2 separate regions of the Homo sapiens genome follow, and region 1 is linked to region 2. The links come from fine-mapping of genetic effects on gene expression. A gene starts in region 2. The other region holds a variant in brackets. All regions are shown on one strand. Distances are between the middles of the regions.

Region 1 (9,018 bases), 22 kb after region 2:
CCTCCTCAGATCTACTCAGGTCAACTTGTTATGAAACGCTTGTTTCTCAATCTACCTTAAAAACAAGCCTTATAAAATTGATAGAATTATTCACCAATTCTTTATTGAATCAGCGGGAGATTCACAATAAAGAACAGCAAGCAAATAAACTCTCCTACGAGTTGTTAGCCCCATGAAGCTAAAACCAATCATTTACTTGGCAGGAAAAAAATTCAACCAACATTTGATGGCATTAAGAATCTCATGTAAGAGTGTACCCTCAAAAGAGCAAATGTGGCTTATCGTGGTGGCTCACGCCTGTAATCCCAGCACTTTAGGAGGCCGAGGCAGGCAGATCACTTGAGGTCAGGAGTTCAAGATCAGCCTGGTCAACATGGTGAAACCCCGTCTCTACTAAAAATACAAAAATTAGTTGTGTGTGGTGGCGGGCACCTGTAATCCCAGGTACTTGGGAGGCTGAGGCAGGAGAATCACTTGAATCTGGGAGGCATATGTTGCAGTGAGCCAAGATTGTGCCACTGGACTCCAGCCTGGGCGACAGAGCAAAACTGTGTCTCAAAGAAAATGAAAATAAAAATAAAAAGAGTAAATGCAACCTCTGACTTCCACAGGAGTCAGGGACTGAGCCCACAGGAGGAAGTTCAGTGCCCATCCTCTCTTATCTGAGCATTTCAGGCTTCTTGGGGGCAGGACAGTATATCATCCTGCTGCATTTCTCAGCAAAAAAATATGTCATCAGTTCTCCCATGGTCATGAGTTTTCAGAGGAAAACTGTTTCTGCCTCATCGTCTTCCTATTTCATACAATACCTTCAGATGGGTTTTACAACAGCCCTGCATGCTGAAATGAGGCAAACAGGCCTATGGTTCTTTCCTGTTACAGGAAGCAGTGTTCACATTGCTCAGTATTTTAAAACCCAAAATTGGCCCTTGCCTAAGTGCAGCATAAAGTATTTTGTAAGTCAAGATGTTTTGATCCTTTGTTGATGTCATCATTTTATTTATTATAGCATTTCTAGTTATGAACCCAAGTTAATGGACTTTTTCTTTTTTTTTTTTTTTTTTTTTTTTTTTTGAGACAGAGTCTCACTCTGTCTCCCAGGCTGGAGTGCAGTGGCACAATCTCTGCTCTCTGCAACCTCTGCCTCCCAGGTTCAAGTGATTCTTTTGCCTCAGCCTCCTGAGTAGCTGGGATTACAGGTGCCCGCCACCATGCCCGGCTAATTTTCATATTTTTAGTAGAGACGGGGTTTCACCATGTTGGCCAGGCTGGTCTCAAACTCCTGACCTCATGATCAGCCCACCTCGGCCTCCCAAAGTGCTGGGATTACAGGCGTTGCCACCACGCCTGGCCAAGTTAATGGACTCTTTAACAAGCTTCTTGACAACTGGCAAACTTCAACTGTTTCTTTATTAAAATTTTATTTTATTTTATTTTACTTTATTTTTTGAGATGGAGTCTCACTCTGTCACCCAGGGTGGAGTACAGTGGCATGATCACAGCTCACTGTAGCCCTGACCTCCCGGGCTCAAGCAATCCTCCCACCTCAGCTTCCTGAGTAGCTGGGACTACAGGTGCACACCACCACACTCGGCTAATTTTTAAATTTTTTTTAGAGATAGGTTCTCACTATGTTGCCCAGGCTGCTCTCAAACTCCTGGGATCAAGTGACCTTCCTGCCTCAAAAAAATTTTATCTTTGTTCTCTTATGACTGGGATAGCGGAAGTTTAGTTTTTAATTCTGAATTACAGATTACAGTTATTGACTTTGCATTGCCTTGTAGCTCTTGGCTGCTCTTTGTGGGGTTCAGGGACCAGTAGAATCAGGAGCCCCTGGGAGCTTATTAGGAATGCAGAATTTCAGGCCCCTCCCCAGACCTACTGAGAATCTGCATTTTAAGAAGATGTGACTTTCTGACGAGCTCAGATCTCTCTCCAGCCTTCCCTAGGGTTCATCTTGCATCTGATACCTCCTCCTTCCTCCAGTGGCTCTCTAACTCCTAGCTCTTCCAACTAAAGATGTTGTTGCTATGAGTCCCATTTCCATTCATCATTACACTGGTAGTTAATATTAGTGGGAAGCTTACTGGCTTTCTTGATAAACAACACTATCAAAATTTGAATAAGTGAACTTGTATTCATTTCTCTGGCTGTTGACAATAATGGTTAGTCTAAATTCTCAAAAGATAGTGGCTGTGTTTATTTTTGTCTCTTCACACTGTTCCTGAGACAGGCATTACACTCATGTTTAGGTGATCATGAGATGTCCAACATTGTGTTGTAATTCTTAAGCAGTATCTTCTAAAACTAAAGCTGAGTTTTCTAAGAGGTGAATATGAGGTATCAAATAGGTAAAATAACCATATTGGAGATTATCTCATTGACAAAGCTGCTTTGTTTACCCCCTTCTGGCCAGAACACAATTCCATTTTTTAATGTATAGTCATGCACCACATAATGACATTTCAGTCAACAATACAACACATATGCAATAGTGGTCCCATAAGATGGTAATGGAGCTGCCCCCTGTGGGTGTACCATTTCTTATGTTTTATACTGAATTTTTACTGTACTATTTCTATGTTTAGATATACAAACACCATCGTGTTACCATTACCTATAGTATTCAGCACAGTAACGTGCTGTACAGGTTTGTAGTCTAGGAGCAGGAGGCCATACCATATAGCTCAGGTGTGTAGTAGGCAGCACCATCTGGGTTTGTGTAAGTGCACTCTGTGATGTTTGCACAATGACAACGTTGCTTAAGAACACATTTTTCAGAATGTATCCCTGTCGTTAAGCAATCCACAACTGTATGTGTCATATTTTAAAGGTTTCAATAATTTAAAAATACATCCCCCTCCAATGTGTTTGGTGGTGGTGGTGTTCTTATTTTGATGTGTTTGTTTGTTTGTTGCAAATGAAAATGTATTTGATGTCCAGGATATCCTAAATAGAAACCATAGTTTAAAATCGTATATAAGAAATATTTTGTTATAAATTGACATAAATACCTAGGAAAATATTGAAATTGTCAATAAAATAAGTTCATTACCTCTTGGAATATGTTATTTTCAAAATAAACTATAATCTATAGTTCATTATCAAATCAAAATTACATAAGGATTGAGATAAGCAAAGACTACATAATGCAATAATGTTCTGTACCTATACCAATAAGCTTGATTAAAAGAGTGTTCTGTAAGTAGCATTTTCTAACTGATTCTGTATATTCTAGCCACAAGAATCTTGACTGAACCCTTTGTGTAGGACTCAACAGGCCCAGGTATCCAACGATAAACATCCCTGTAAGGCGTCTGTCTTTAGCTGAAGCTGGACAATTGGATTCACAGACGTTAAGACAGAGGCTCTGGAACACAGAGACCTAAGGGCAGATCTTATCTCTATCGTTTACTGTTTGACCTTGAGATCTTATCTCTACCGTTTACTATTTGACCTTGAGCAGTTACAATTCCTCATCTTTAAAAGAGGATTAAATGCAGTAATACATATAAAATATTTAGAGCTGTATTAGCGAGTATTATTGTTGATGTAGGCTGTAAAAAAGTTACAAAACAGTACTCAGTATTCATAAGTTGTTTCAGTTAAAGATGTTTTAAATTTAATATAATATAATTGAAGTGCTAGGTTCATATTTCCTGACAAATAAATTCTAAGCAATACTGTATCCTTTTGCAGGTAGAAGAAGCAGATGATTGGCTCAGATATGGAAACCCTTGGGAGAAGTCCCGCCCAGAATTCATGCTGCCTGTGCACTTCTATGGAAAAGTAGAACACACCAACACCGGGACCAAGTGGATTGACACTCAAGTATTCAGAGTGCTCGTATAGCCAGCGTTTTGTATAGTATTTAGTACAGTAGATAATACATTGACTATGTAGCATATAGTGGTGATATTGAGTATAGGGCATGTCGTGTTTTGAATAATAGAATATATTTTTGTAAATAAATCTGTTACTTCTCTTAGCGCAGCCCAGTCATTTTGGAGACAAAGGAGCTGAGGCCAAGAGAGGAGTGACTTTTATAAGGGTCATTTTGCAACCAGCTTTGTCAGAAAATTGTCAGTTCTTTTTTTTTTTTTTTTTTTTTT[G/TTG]CCAGAAAATTGTCAGTTCTATAGTAACCAGCATGCTTACCTCTTTGGTTTTATATTAAGGTGTTGATAGCAAAATTGAATAATTTGAAATGTCATTCCTGGCTGGGTGCAGTGGCTCACAACTGTAATCCCAGCACTTTGGGAAGCCGAAGCGGGCAGATCACCTGAGGTCAGGAGTTCAAGACCAGCCTGGCCAACATGGTGAATCCCTATCTGTACTAAAAATACGAAAATTAGCCAGGAGTGGTGGCCCATGCCTATAGTCCCAGCTACATGGGAGGCTGAGGCAGGAGAATCGCTTGAACCTAGGAGGTGGAGGTTGCAGTGAGCTGAGATCATGTCGCTGCACTCCAGCCTGGGTAACAGAGTGAGACTCTGTCTCAAAAAAAATAAAATAAAATAAAATAAAAATAAAAGTTTGCAGTTTACACAATCAATCCTGGAAGCATTTTATTTACACTGTGGGTCCCACTGCTGAGCTAACTTGCATTTACAAAACACCTCTAGATACTGTCATAATGTATCCAGAAATTCAATTAGAGAGAGTGTGTGTTTCTGGGCCAACAGAGGCAAGGTTAGGGGGCAGAGGTAATATAAGTGAGCTGGCCCAAGCCATGCAACTTAGCCTCATAGATTGAAGTCATCACATGAATTAACCCCAAACTGGTACCCAGTGATGTCAGAGCATGAGTCCAGATGTGCTCTGTGCGTGCATGGGATGGCTTCCAATAAAGTCAAATGACACAGTCACGTGTCAGTTTAGGTCCTCTAGGAAACAGACACCAGAGAGAATGAGAAGTGCAAGTGACATATTGGGGGATGCCTATGAAAGACAAAGGGGAGAGGGAGCAGGATGAGGTGGGAAGGCTTCAGACTGTGACACAGGTGTGCCACCTGTGAAAAGTGAAGGGGAAAGAAGCAGCATTCTCAGGGAGAGCCTCAGACCACAGTGCCACTCTGAGCAAGTGGCCAGGCTGATGGAGCCTGACACTAAAGATTGCCCATTAGAGAAGTCTCGGCCCTAGTGTCCCAGCCACATGGAGTGTCCCAGAGAGCGCAGCTTTGGTGTGAGCTCTGAGGGAGCAAGTCCTCTTTGAGGTTCTCTGAAAGAAGATCTAAGCTGTGCACTTCTTGGGCTGCCTTAATTATGCTTCAAGGGTCAGAAGGGTCCAACTCTTGTTTGAACCGAGACTCAATCCCAGCCTGCAAATGACTTTCCCTGATTGATTACAACTTGCTTTAAAAGTCCAGAGACTTTTATCTCTTAATGAAAGATATTTAAATGAGGGTGATTTATTACTTTGAGGTCGCGGTGATCACGAAAGTATGACTGAGTATATGTGATTGATATGGGCCATAATGCTTCATTCATTCACAATTCAGCAGACCAAATTAAAGAGATGCGTGTTTAAGTTTCAATCCTGCCATGACTGTGATCTTGGGCAAGTCACTTCTCTCTCAGCTTCAGCTCCCTCATGTCCAAAATAAGTGGGTTGCACTAAATGAGATCCAGCATCCTCCAGTTCAATTATTCTGTCATTCTCCTTCCTTCGAGCTTGACTCTGATGAGGCCGGGAATAAAAATGAATGATTTCTCACTTGAATTTTCGATGCACTGTGAAACATAGTTAATCTTCCTCTTCTCTATTTCAGTGACTGTCACAAAGATCAAGCTAGATTTTCCAAAGCTTACCTCTTAGACTCAACTCAGCTAATTATCAGCTGATTTGGCAGATCACTGTAGGAATCACTAAAATAACTCCTTATGCAACTTTAAAAATCTAGCATAGCATTTTAAATATTATATGAGATGTTATAGCTTCATAAATTTCCTATTCCATTTACTTTCATCATACTTGAAATCAGATCACTGAAAAACCTATGCAAAACATATTCTAAGTGCTATTTTTTGGTGGGTACAGATTCACAATGTCACTTTGTTTGCATATCATATTTTATTATTATTAGAGCAATGGCTTTATCTGAAACATGAAAGATAAACTTTTTTGGCTGGGTGCAGTGGCTCACGCCTGTAATCCCAGCACTTTGGGAGGCCGAGGTGGATGGATCACGAGGTCAGGAGATCGAAACCATCCTGGCTAACACGGTGAAACCTCGTCTCTACTAAAAATACAAAAAAATTAGCCGGGCATGGTGGCGGGCACCTGTAGTCCCAGCTACTCGGGAGGCTGAGGCAGGAGAATGGTGTGAACTTGCAGTGAGCCGAGATTGCACCACTGCACTCCAGCCTGGGCAACAGAGTGAGACTCCGTCTCAAAAAAAAAAAAAGATAAACTTTTTTGAATACAAATACCATATCATTCCATTCCACTGCATTTATATCAGGGCAAGGGCACATGGAGAGTCAACATAGAAATACTGTAAAGGACCATCAGTGTGGATGGTTTCAGTCACTAGATTGTACCAGGTCGGGGAGGAACCACATGTTCCTCTAATACCCTCTGCAGCCCTGAGACCCTCTTCTCCATTTAGGCCTCACACAATTTAAGTTGGTAATGGAGCCAGGAATAGAATTCCATTGCAGTCTCCCAGCCCCTTGTTCAACCTATGTCATCACACTTGGGAAACAATGAGCAGCTGCTTCTGTTTAATCCCACAGGTGGTCCTGGCTCTGCCATATGACACCCCCGTGCCCGGCTACATGAATAACACTGTCAACACCATGCGCCTCTGGTCTGCTCGGGCACCAAATGACTTTAACCTCAGAGACTGTGAGTACAGCACAGGCCTTGGTTTCTTTATGCGTGTGCTTAATCTTTTTGATTGGTAGTTAGAACCAAATTGAGCTTGAAACAAACAAAAAAGCCTTGAGTTTCTGATCTGAACTTCACTGACTAAGCAGGCATTGTATGGAGGAAGTAGGGAGGGCATTTTTAAAGCAATTCTCATGTGAAGTCCAGCATGACGGTGTGTTGAAATCCTTTGGGATTTTTAGGAATTTTAGGAATCCCACATGACACACAGCACAGAGCCAGTGAGATCAAGAGGTTTCCAACAACAATGGCTGGTTTCTCTATTTATTGTTTCTCTAACTTTCCCCTAGTTAATGTTGGAGACTACATTCAGGCTGTGCTGGACCGAAACCTGGCCGAGAACATCTCCCGGGTCCTCTATCCCAATGACAATGTGAGTGATCAAGGTTGCTTTCTTAGTGGCAACAGAGGCAGCTTATTTCACAAGAGCCTGTTCAGTAACCTATAAAACACATTTAATATTGATGTTTTTCCATGTGCAGAACAAGCTCCGTATTTCTTCCTGAATTGTGTAGATTTCTCCTCCCAACCAAGTAAGGAAAACAAATCTGTATAGTGCATGAAATCAGAATTGGTATTTTGCCCTTGATTAGTGACCCCATCACTAATTGGGAAGTTATTGAGATGTATTTTAAAACAAAACCTGGATATAAGAGATGAAGTAAATCACTGGTGAAGCACTGCCTCCTTTCCAGATAGAAATTTTATCTGCAAAGTCAGAAGTCACTGAATATTTTCTGCCTCGCCTCTTCTCTCACTGACTAGGCTCTTTCTGGTCCTCTGCCCTGATGCTAGATGGAGTTAGAGACCCTGGGGCAGACCCATGAACAAACATCTGTTTCTTCTGCCACTGACTTGTATCTTTTTCTTATAGTCAATTATTCTAATTTTATTGTAAATATAGCTTAGTTAAAAAAAAAAAACACTTGGGGCCAGGTGCAATGGCTCATGCCTGTAATCCCAGCACTTTGGGAGTCTGAGGCGGGCAAATCATTTGAGGCCAGAAGTTCGAGACCAGCCTGGCCAACATGACGAAACCCTGTCCCTACTAAAAATACAAAAAAATTAGCCAGGTGTGATGGTAGGCGCCTGTAATCCCAGCTACTGGAGAGGCTGAGGCAGGAAAATCGCTTGAGCCTGGGAGACAGAGATTGCAGTGAGCCGAGATTGCACCACTGCATTCCAGCCTAGGTGACAGAGTGAGACTCTCTCAAAACACACACACACACACACACACACACACACACCACTTGGAACTGGATCTCAGATAACTGCTATTGATTCTTGGTTGTTTTAAATATATGTAACTCTAAACTTCTCTATGGGTAAAATCATTTTCATGAAGCTGTAATGATTTTTTTAAAGTGGTCTCAGAAGCAATAAAATTAGCACTCTGCTTTACAAAGATGGCAGAAGACAAGGATCTTGGGGGGACTAGGACATAAATAGTCCTTAATACCAGATGTCCACCTGGTGTTAAATCATAATCTCTCAGAAAGGAAGATGATTATGTGGATTTTGCTGGAGCATTTTTAGGAACCTAATGGTATATGCTATTATTCCTTTGTGGAAAACATTGTGGCTTCAGTACATTTCAGAGAAATCTCTAACCCAAAAGCAAAAAGTTATTCTATGTCAGGGTCAAAGTAAGAGTTCTTCCAAGTCTGGGACCGTACTGCCAACCTAAACCCAGTCTGCAGGGGCTTGAAATTCATCCTCCTGTCTTCAGTAAGGACCAAAACTAATTTTACTGGGAAATAATCGTCTGCAGTAACTGACAATATATACTAAGTTAGCATGGGGTAAAAAATTGACTAGATTTGTTGGGTAAAAGGGAGTTCTCAGGATCATGTTTTTGTTTGTTTGTTTGTTTGTTTGTTTTTAAGAGTAAGCTGAAAAATCCTTTTATACTGTAATTACAATAACAAATTCATTCTTCTCCTCAACTTGGCCATAGCCCTGGCATAGGTCAGTGATTATACTTTTAAGTATTAGGGAGTTCAGAGCCCCAGATATTCTATATGCAGACCTCTATGCTCATATTCATTAGTTTTAATAAGACTCTGGTCCAAGGCTTACATTTGGGGGATGGGGTGCTCATCATTTTAAAATTTTTAATTTTAATAGTTTTA
Region 2 (9,018 bases):
TATGCGGCGTTATTTCTGAGGGCTCTGTTCTGTTCCATTGATCTATATCTCTGTTTTGGTACCAGTACCATGCTGTTTTGGTTACTGTAGCCTTGTAGTATAGTTTGAAGTCAGGTAGTGTGATGCCTCCAGCTTTGTTCTTTTGGCTCAGAATTGACTCGCTCTGTCACCCAGGCTGGGAGTGCAGTGTGGCGATCTCAGCTCACTGCAAGCTCCGCCTCCTGGGTTCACGCCATTCTCCTGCCTCAGCCTCCCAAGTAGCTAGGACTACAGGCACCCGCCATCACGCTTGGCTAATTGTTTTTGTATTTTTTAGTAGAGACGGGGTTTCACCATGTTAGCCAGGATGGTCTCGATCTCCTGACCTCGTGATCCACCCACCTCGGCCTCCCAAAGTGCTGGGATTACAGGTGTGAGCCACCGCACCTGGCCCTCAGTCATCTTTCTAAATATTTGAAACAGCGGAGCCTGGATAACAACCTTGGTTAACAGATTCATACATTAAATATGCTGAGTGCAGTGTACTCAAATTCCCTCATTGAGCATAAAGCTCAGCCCATGGTTTACACCACCCCTTTCCAGAGTGTTAGTGACCTGTCTGTGGGGCCACTGTGGACCTCTGGCATTTCCCTAGATTGCAGAACTGATTAGAAGATGGTCAAAAACCAATAAACAGTACAAAACAGGCCGGGCGCGGTGGCTCACGCCTATAATCCCAGTACTTTGGGAGGCCGAGACGGGTGAATTACCTGAGGTCAGGAGTCTGAGACCAGCCTGACCAGCATGGTGAAACCCCCCTCTCTACTAAAAATACAAAATCTAGCCAGGCATGGTGGCGCACGTCTGTAATCCCAGCTATTCAAGAGGGTGGGGCAGGAGAATCACTTGAACCTGGGAGGCAAAAGTTGCACTGAGCCAAGATGGCGCCATTGCACTCCAGCCTGGGTGACAAGAGCGAGATTCCGCCTCAAAAAAAAACAAACAAAACAAAACAAGTGAGTAGGGTAATAGGTTAGCTGAGATGCAGTCAGAATTCAGGTTTACTTAACAGATCACAAATCCTGTTTCAGGGGAGGAGAAACAACATTAAGGGATTTGAAAACCTCTTCCATCACTTACTGGTGAGGTGATCTTGAGCAAGCTACTCACCTTCTCTAAGCCTCGATTTCCTCATCTGTGAAATGGAAAGAAAAACAGAACTTGTCCCACAGAGCTGATGAGAAGATTAAATGAGTAATGCACATTATGGGCCTTGCCAGAGTCCTTGGAAAATGCTAGTTGCCGTTTTGATAATCTGAAAGTGGTATGCCACCACAATAGGCCCTGCTTTGAAACATAGTGGGTATTAATCTGTATTTGTTTATCTCATATCTTTCTGTGGTGGTCACTAGAAAGGACCTCATAGATGCCCCAAGCTGCAGGAAGCATAACCGACCCAGGGCTCCAGATAGCCCTGCAGAGGCCATGCCTCCGGGAGGATGATCCCACCAATGACCGAGCAGAGTACCGTGGACTCCTGACAGCAGATGCCCTCCAGAACTGCCCAGCAGCACTGCTGGATCTTCCTGGGACTACAGGGCTGTCTGAGATATGCCCTTCTACCCTTCCCTCTCTCTCCCCTTCACTCTAGGTCACACTGGCATCACAGTCTGATGCTCTCTCTGGCTAGCACTCCCCGTTTTTCCCTCCCACAAGCATTTACCCCAGTAAAAAATCTTAACATGTTTAATCCTGTTTTAGCTTCTGCTTCTCTGAAGACCCGAACTAACACACTACTTTCTCATGTTTTTTTGTATTTCCAACAGTGGGAAACTTACACTTGTCCTATGAGTTCTGGACTGTTTGTTCAGCTACTTACAAACGCCATTTCGTTACAGCAGCCACGGGGAAGCAGTGGATGAGAAGCAGGAATAATATAGGCCATTGTGAGTAAGGCTGCTATAAACATGTGAGCCACTGAAATCTGATACTTTTTCAGGGATCCATAGTTTCTGGTTCTTTCTGGTCAAGAGAGGCTAAAGGAAAGGTTTTTAAAGATATTAATTTTCTTAGTCAAGTAACTTAACCTCTCAAGGCCTCAGTGTCCTAGACTAGCACAGAACAAGCAGATGAAACAAAGTTTATATCAGAATGTCAACTGAAAAAGTATCATTTACCATAAATGGAAGATAATTGTATTAAATTCTAGTTAGATGCTAAAACTTCAAGAACTTTTAGAGTCTGTACCTGCATTCTGTTAAAAATATAGATTAAAAAATGCTAACATGTTAACACAAAGGACTTTCCAGAAAGACTTAAAGAAAAGTGAAAGGGGAATAACTGTCTTGCAATGTAATTCATTGTCGTTTAAGACTGGGTCTATGGAACACCCTAAATCACCTGGTTCCATCACGTTCTTTTTAACATGGAGATGGATAGTTTTTCCCCATACTCTATATATTGAGCATTCTATAGTTCATGATTTTTCTGCATAGAGAATTGTTCAAGCCGGGGGTGCAGGCTCACCGACTGGATAGTGAATCAAGAAAATAGTGTGTTCATTAGTTCATCATTACCCTGAGTTTCCAACAAGAATTTAGTACAGGAAAGTAGACAGCGGAGCTGGGAGCCATCTATTTGAAACTGTCTTAAGCAAAACTAAGAAACCGAGTAAGCTTGCTTTTGGTGTCTTTCATCCCTTCTTGTGTGCCCCCTAATTATTCACTCCCCAATGCCCAGACATTATGATGCCTTCTCCTGCTCAGAGACCTTTCTGGGAGGAAGACCTACTCAGACCTGGTATTCCCTCATCCTAGGCTCTACCCTATTTTTCATCCAGCTGTTAAAGCTGAGTGACTAATTTCACACTTATGTACGAATGACCCATAACTGGCTTAATGCTGTGACCATCTTGGGGGTATTCAAAGCTGATAAACACTTTTTTAAGTTATATAATAATCAAAGAAGCTTATCTTTCTGCTTTATTTCAAATTTCACCCCACAGGCCTTACTTATTTTTAAGATCAATGATTTTGATGGGCCCCCCCTTCCCACTCTTAATTCAGGGTATTTCTGGCCCCATCCGGATCCAAACTCTAATGCTCATCTCTTCCATACTGTCCTTTGCAGGTCATCGGTATTGCAAGAGTTGCATAAGGCCCAATTCAGTCTCTGCCCCAAAAGCTCAAGTCCAAACTTCAGAATCTGGGAGGACAAGGATTCAGGAAATTTTGTCAGAACTATGAGCTTTGAACTTTCACTTTTATGGTGAGGGTCACATTTGGTCTGAATCAATTAATCCATTACCCGCCCCCCCCCCCCCCCCCACCACCACCATGTGTGAATTCAAAATAATCAACTTGGGTTTATTATAAAAAACAAAATATATTAATATAAGTATACTAAGATTTTTCTAGAAAACTTGGCCGGGCGCGGTGGCTCACGCCTGTAATCCCAGCACTTTGGGAGACCGAGGAGGGCGGATCACAAGGTCAGGAGATCGAGACCATCCTGGCTAACACGGTGAAACCCCATCTGTACTAAAAATACAAAAAATTAGCCGGGCGTGGTGGCGGGCGCCTGTAGTCCCAGCTACTCGGGAGGCTGAGGCGGGAGAATGGCGTGAACCCGGGAGGCGGAGCTTGCAGTGAGCCCAGATCGCGCCACTGCACTCTGCCTGGGTAACAGAGTGAGACCCTGTCTCAAAAAACAACAAACAAATAAACTTAGAAGAATATATGTGACTATTGGCCGGGCGCGGTGGCTCACGCCTGTAATCCCAGCCCTTTGGGAGGCCGAGGCGGGCAGATCACGAGGTCAGGAGATAGAGACCATCCTGGCTAACATGGTGAAACCCTGTCTCTACTAAAAATAAAAAAATAAAAAATAAAAAATGCGAGGTGGCGGGCGCCTGTAGTCCCAGCTATTCAGGAGGCTGAAGCAGGAGAATGGCGTGAACCCGGGAGGCGGAGCTTGCAGTGAGCCGAGATCGCGCCACTGCACTCCAGCCTGGGCAACAGAGTGAGACTCCGTCTCAAAAAAAAAAAAAAAAGAAGAAGAAGAAAGAAAAAGAAAAGAAAAAGGAAAAAGAAAACTTAATTCTGGCAATGGACTGTTTCTAAAATAATATATTAATACTACTTAATGAGGAAGAAAAAACCTCTGACATCCTAAAATGCCAAGTGTTTGCCTTTACCAAGGTTTAAGCACACATAAACACGCATATTCAAATACCACCCAAAGTGGAGGTGCAAAGATCAGCCTGTACCGCACAGTAACACAGACTGGGTTGTTTTTTGTAAAGAAGGCAACTAGTCCAGTGAGTAATCCCTTCATTTTCCACACACATACCCTTCTGTTTTCTCCCTCTCCTCCCCCCACACCCTCCACTGCAGTTAAAACGTAATTCGAAGAAGCCTAAGGTAAAAGCCCCTGCCGCATAATGACCCTAGAGCTTCACCTCACCTACTCTGATTCTTAGTAACCTACCTCTAAGGATGAGAGACAGGGTGCTACGAGCGGGGCGAACTTTGGTCCAGGAGTTAAGAAACCTGAACCCTGGAGTCCTCAAAAAAAATGAATGAAAATAACAGAGGCGCCCTGAGGATCCAAGCTGGGGCGGTGCCAAGGGCTGGCAAGTGAGGTTGGGACAACAGAAGTCAAACGTGCCGTCCTTCCAGATCCCGGCGCTTATGGCGGAAGCCACTCCAGGTGAGAAATCCTAACAGTCATAATGGCATAACAAATAAACATCGGCAAAACAGCAGTCTGCCAACGACGTGCTTCCCTACACAGACGTCCTCCTGTCTCCACACTCTAGAGGGGAGAGGCGGAACAAATGCTGCCTCCGCAGATTTTGGAAATCCGGAAGGGAGCCTCCGAGCCCAGGTCCCGGGCTGGCAGGGGTCTCGCCGGCGCTTGGACCTCGTCTCCCACCCCCGAGCCCACTGCGGCCCCAGAGCCTCGGGAGGGGCCGGGCACTTCCTCTGCCCTCCGGCCTGGGGCAGGGGCCGGGACGCGGTGGGAGTGCAGCGGGGACGGCACCGCCCGAGGGGGCGGGCCCCAAACTTTCGTGCGCGTTGAAAGCTGCTGGCGCGGCGGGGCGGACTCCACCCCTGCCCGGCAGCCCAGCGCCTCCGGCCGCACTTCCAGCTCTCTGCGCAGCCCGCCGCGCAGCCCGCCGCCCCAGCCATGGCGAAGCCCCTGACGGACCAGGAGAAGCGGCGGCAGATCAGCATCCGCGGCATCGTGGGCGTGGAGAACGTGGCAGAGCTGAAGAAGAGTTTCAACCGGCACCTGCACTTCACGCTGGTCAAGGACCGCAACGTGGCCACCACCCGCGACTACTACTTCGCGCTGGCGCACACGGTGCGCGACCACCTGGTGGGGCGCTGGATCCGCACGCAGCAGCACTACTACGACAAGTGCCCCAAGGTAACCGGGGGCGGGACGGCGGGCCGGGGTCCAGCCCGGAGTCGGAGTCTCCGGCCGCGGCCGGGCGGGACGAGGTGGAGAACCCCTCAGAGTGGTCCCTTGCACCCGGTCCTTGCCCCGAAGTCCAGAGGAGACGTGTCTAGGCTGTGGGCGGGCAGCCTGGGGGACAGATTAGGCCTCCCAACAGACGCCGAACTCATGTCTCCGAGGTGCCACCCGCCAGTGTCCCGCCCAAACCACTGTGCCGTCCGCCCCTGGAAACCGCCAGGTGGGCAAAAGCCCAGGCCCCTCTCGCCTGTCCACTTCACAAACTTTTTTGGAACTTTGACTCTCAGCATTTAATCAAGAGGTGACGGGGGCCTCTTGTCCTGTATGCCGGACACTATTCTCTGCCCTGGACACTCAGCCCTAAACAAAAGGGACAAAAATCTTGCCTTGCTGGAGCTTGGTATTTTGGGAGGGGAGACAAACGCCGAGCTGGGAAAAGGTCGTAAGTCTCAGGCCTCTGGGAGTGGCTAAGTGTGGTGCAGAGGAGGGGCAGGGTCCCGCTCCAAGCGTAGAGCGCCGCCCACCCATTCTCCTGAGTGGGTGTAGCTCCTGGAATTCCGTGAGTCTTTCGCAAAGGCGGCCCAGGGCCAGGCAATGCCCTGGACTCGTCCTCCCCGAAGACACACACTCCCCCGACCCTTAGCCCTTCCACACCCGAGGCCTGCCCCCAGAGCTGCTGAGGAAGGCTGGTCAGGGACCACCTCCATCCACGGCGTGGGGGCGGGAGCAGAGACCTCCTTAGGGTGATTTTGGACCTACAGAGGGACAATATCTCTGCCTGACAGTTTGCGAAGAGGGCGAGAGGCAGTGGGGAAGGACTGGGGAGGACATGGCAGGGAGAGGGATTGTGTGCAGGCTGGAGTGAGGGCGGGTGTGAGTCTGTATTGGGAGAGGAAACTGGAGAAGCCAGGTAGAGACATATTGGAAAGAATAAAAGATTGGGATACATCCCAGGGGCAGTGGGAAATATATATAAACATTTATTAGAACTTTTTAATTATGTAAAGGTGTGAAGAAAAAAAAATGGTCTATAATCCCAGTGCCCAAGAAACCCCATAGGAATTTTTAAGAAAGGAAATGAATGTAAATTCTCATAGTAAGAAATTGCAACTGTAACAGTTTTCAAATGGAAAGTAACTCTTCTTCACCCCAAAGACCTAGGCCTCCACCAAGGTAGCAACTGCTAAAATGTATCCTTAAAAATTTAAATGCACCTTAGAAAACACTTTATGTATACATATATTTACTGTTTTGTTGTTTTGTTTTGTTTTGTTTTGTTTTGTTTTGTTTGAGACAGAGTCTCACTCTCGCCCAGGCTGAATGAAGTGCAGCGGCGCCATCTTGGCTCACTGCATCCTTCGCCTCCAGGGTTGAAGCGATTCTCCTGCCTCAGACTCTCGAGTAGCTGGGACTACAGGCTCCTACCACTACACCTGGCTAAGTTTGTATTTTTAGTAGAGACAAGGTTTCACCATGTTGGCCAGGCTGCTCTCAAACTCCTGGCCTCAAATGATCCTCCTTCCTTGGCCTCCCAAAGTGCTGGGATTACAGGTGTGAGCCACCACACTCGGCCACTATCTTTTAAAAATTTATTTACACAAAGGGAATGCTACTAAGTACACCATACTGCGCCTCTCATTAAAAATTATTTTTAACAATTTTAAGCGGAAGGGTGGGACACTGAGCATATATTAGAAACACACACTCACGCCTCTGTAGCATTTAGCATCATAGAGCACCAGAGAATCTTGTATGTTTTTCCTTCAGTGGCTTATGCAGTGCTTTATGGTTTTCCTGGTTCTCCGGCCAGTTTCTTCACTGGGCTCTCCTTTTCTACGTGAGTGCAGATATAAGCCAGGAATTCCGACGTGTGTAAATTCTGATAGCGATACACTGGGGATACAACAATGAACATGTTTCATTCCACACGTGTTCATCAAATATCTACTCCATCACAGTCGTCTGTCTAAACAGGATGGTTCCTGCCCTCATAAAGTAGAGCAAGTAGGTGTGTCCAAGCTCCTCTCCCACCTCCCTTGCTCTCCAATAACTGTGCAGATGAATCCCAAATATGGATCCCTAGTCTGAATTCCTTTTCTAACTCTATGCGTACATTTCTGAGTGTTTAGTGAACATATCTAGATATCTTCCTATTTCCTCAAACTCAGTACGTTAAAAACTCAAACCATTATTTCTCCCAATCCTGCCCCATCTTCCCGTGTTTTGTTTTGTTTTGTGACAGAGTCTCACTCTGTCACCCATGTTGGAGTGCAATGATGCAATCTCGGCTCACTGCAACCTCTGCCTCTCGGGTTCAAGTGATTCTCCTGCCTTAGCCTCCTGAGTAGCTGGGATTACAGGTGCATGCCACCATGCCCAGCTACTTTTTGTATTTTTAGTAGCGACAGGATTCCACCATTTGGACAGGCTGGTCTCGAACTCCTGACCTGGTGATCCACCCACCTCGGCCTCCCAAAGTGCTGGGATTACAGGCATGAGCCACCACGACTGGCCTCTGTGTTTTTTGTTTTCATGCCATTGTCATCTTGACAATCCAGACGCAAACTTTAGTCTCACTTTTTGCCGTTCAACTGTTTGCCAATTTCTGTTGATTTCTATAGGTTCCCTTGAATGACGTGCTCTCCTCCATTATCTCTTCCTGCCTTGGTGAGGCTCTAGCTACCCATTTGTTGCAGCTGACTTCACGTGGTTATTTTGCTTTCCAGAAGTGGTAAAACCGGCAGCCTGAGGCTGAATAAGGATAGCAGACATACTTTGTTGGCCAAGACATTTTTCAGGAATTTAATTTTTAGCGCCTGTGGTCAGGACTTGCACACTCCATTTCTTAGCCCAGTACTCTTCTTTGTTTTATGTGACCTCAATTACACATTTATTTTCTCTGCCTAGCTCCTGAAGGCATTTGAGTATATGATCCCGTCTCATTCTGTGCATTGTGGTCTGCTCAAGCTTCCTAAAGCAACGCATCTTGCCCCTGCTCAATTATCATTGGCTCCTCTTGCCTGCCATAGAACTTAAGCAAGTATTCGAAAGCACTTCTCAGTCCAGGTGGGCCTGTTCTTCCCTTGTTATCTTCCATTACCCTCTGTACCCACCTTGCTCTCCCAACAAACCAATCCCCACTCTGGGCCCCCGATTCACTTGCAGTGTCCTTCCTACCACATTTCTATGCTCAACTCTTGCCTGTCCTGCAAGTCTCAGGTTTATTGACAGGTGTTCCAGAGGTCTTCCCGGAAGTACCCAGGCCCTCTGACTAATGCTGGGGATAAAAATAAAACATACAATTTAAAAATATTTGTTATATCTTCTTTATTTTATTTTACAAGCCTTTTGAAAATATCCACTTTTTACATAAAATACTAGTAATCATAGTACATGCATGTAATTTATAAAGTATATTGGAGATGCTCATATATTTTACTATCAGTCATATGTAACAAATATTTAGAGACCAGTAAGTAAGAGTATGGCCAAGATCTATTTTTTGAAGTCTTATATATTCCCAAATATAAGGAGAGATTACCTCTAAGAAGTTATTTG

What was found.
Region 1: its variant is fine-mapped to the expression of PYGL in whole blood (INTERVAL, PIP above 0.99).

The regions. Positions count from the first base shown.
Region 1 is chr14:50,918,782-50,927,799 of GRCh38, reverse strand. PYGL (glycogen phosphorylase L) reads left to right here. Exons shown (of 20, transcript NM_002863.5): 5 at 3,700-3,831; 6 at 6,733-6,844; 7 at 7,177-7,259. Among named protein-coding and RNA genes, the nearest start is that of PYGL, 21 kb to the left of the region's middle. The variant G/TTG (reference allele first, on the strand shown) is at 4,113.
Region 2 is chr14:50,940,555-50,949,572 of GRCh38, reverse strand. PYGL (glycogen phosphorylase L) reads left to right here and starts at 5,090. Exons shown (of 20, transcript NM_002863.5): 1 at 5,090-5,412. The coding sequence starts at 5,170. LOC124903314 (a long non-coding RNA gene) reads left to right here and starts at 6,983. Exons shown (of 2, transcript XR_007064163.1): 1 at 6,983-7,464; 2 at 8,368-8,772. LOC400212 (a long non-coding RNA gene) reads left to right here. Exons shown (of 4, transcript NR_170195.1): 3 at 1,806-1,925; 4 at 3,109-3,283. RefSeq lists a silencer at 4,911-5,070 and an enhancer at 5,739-6,262.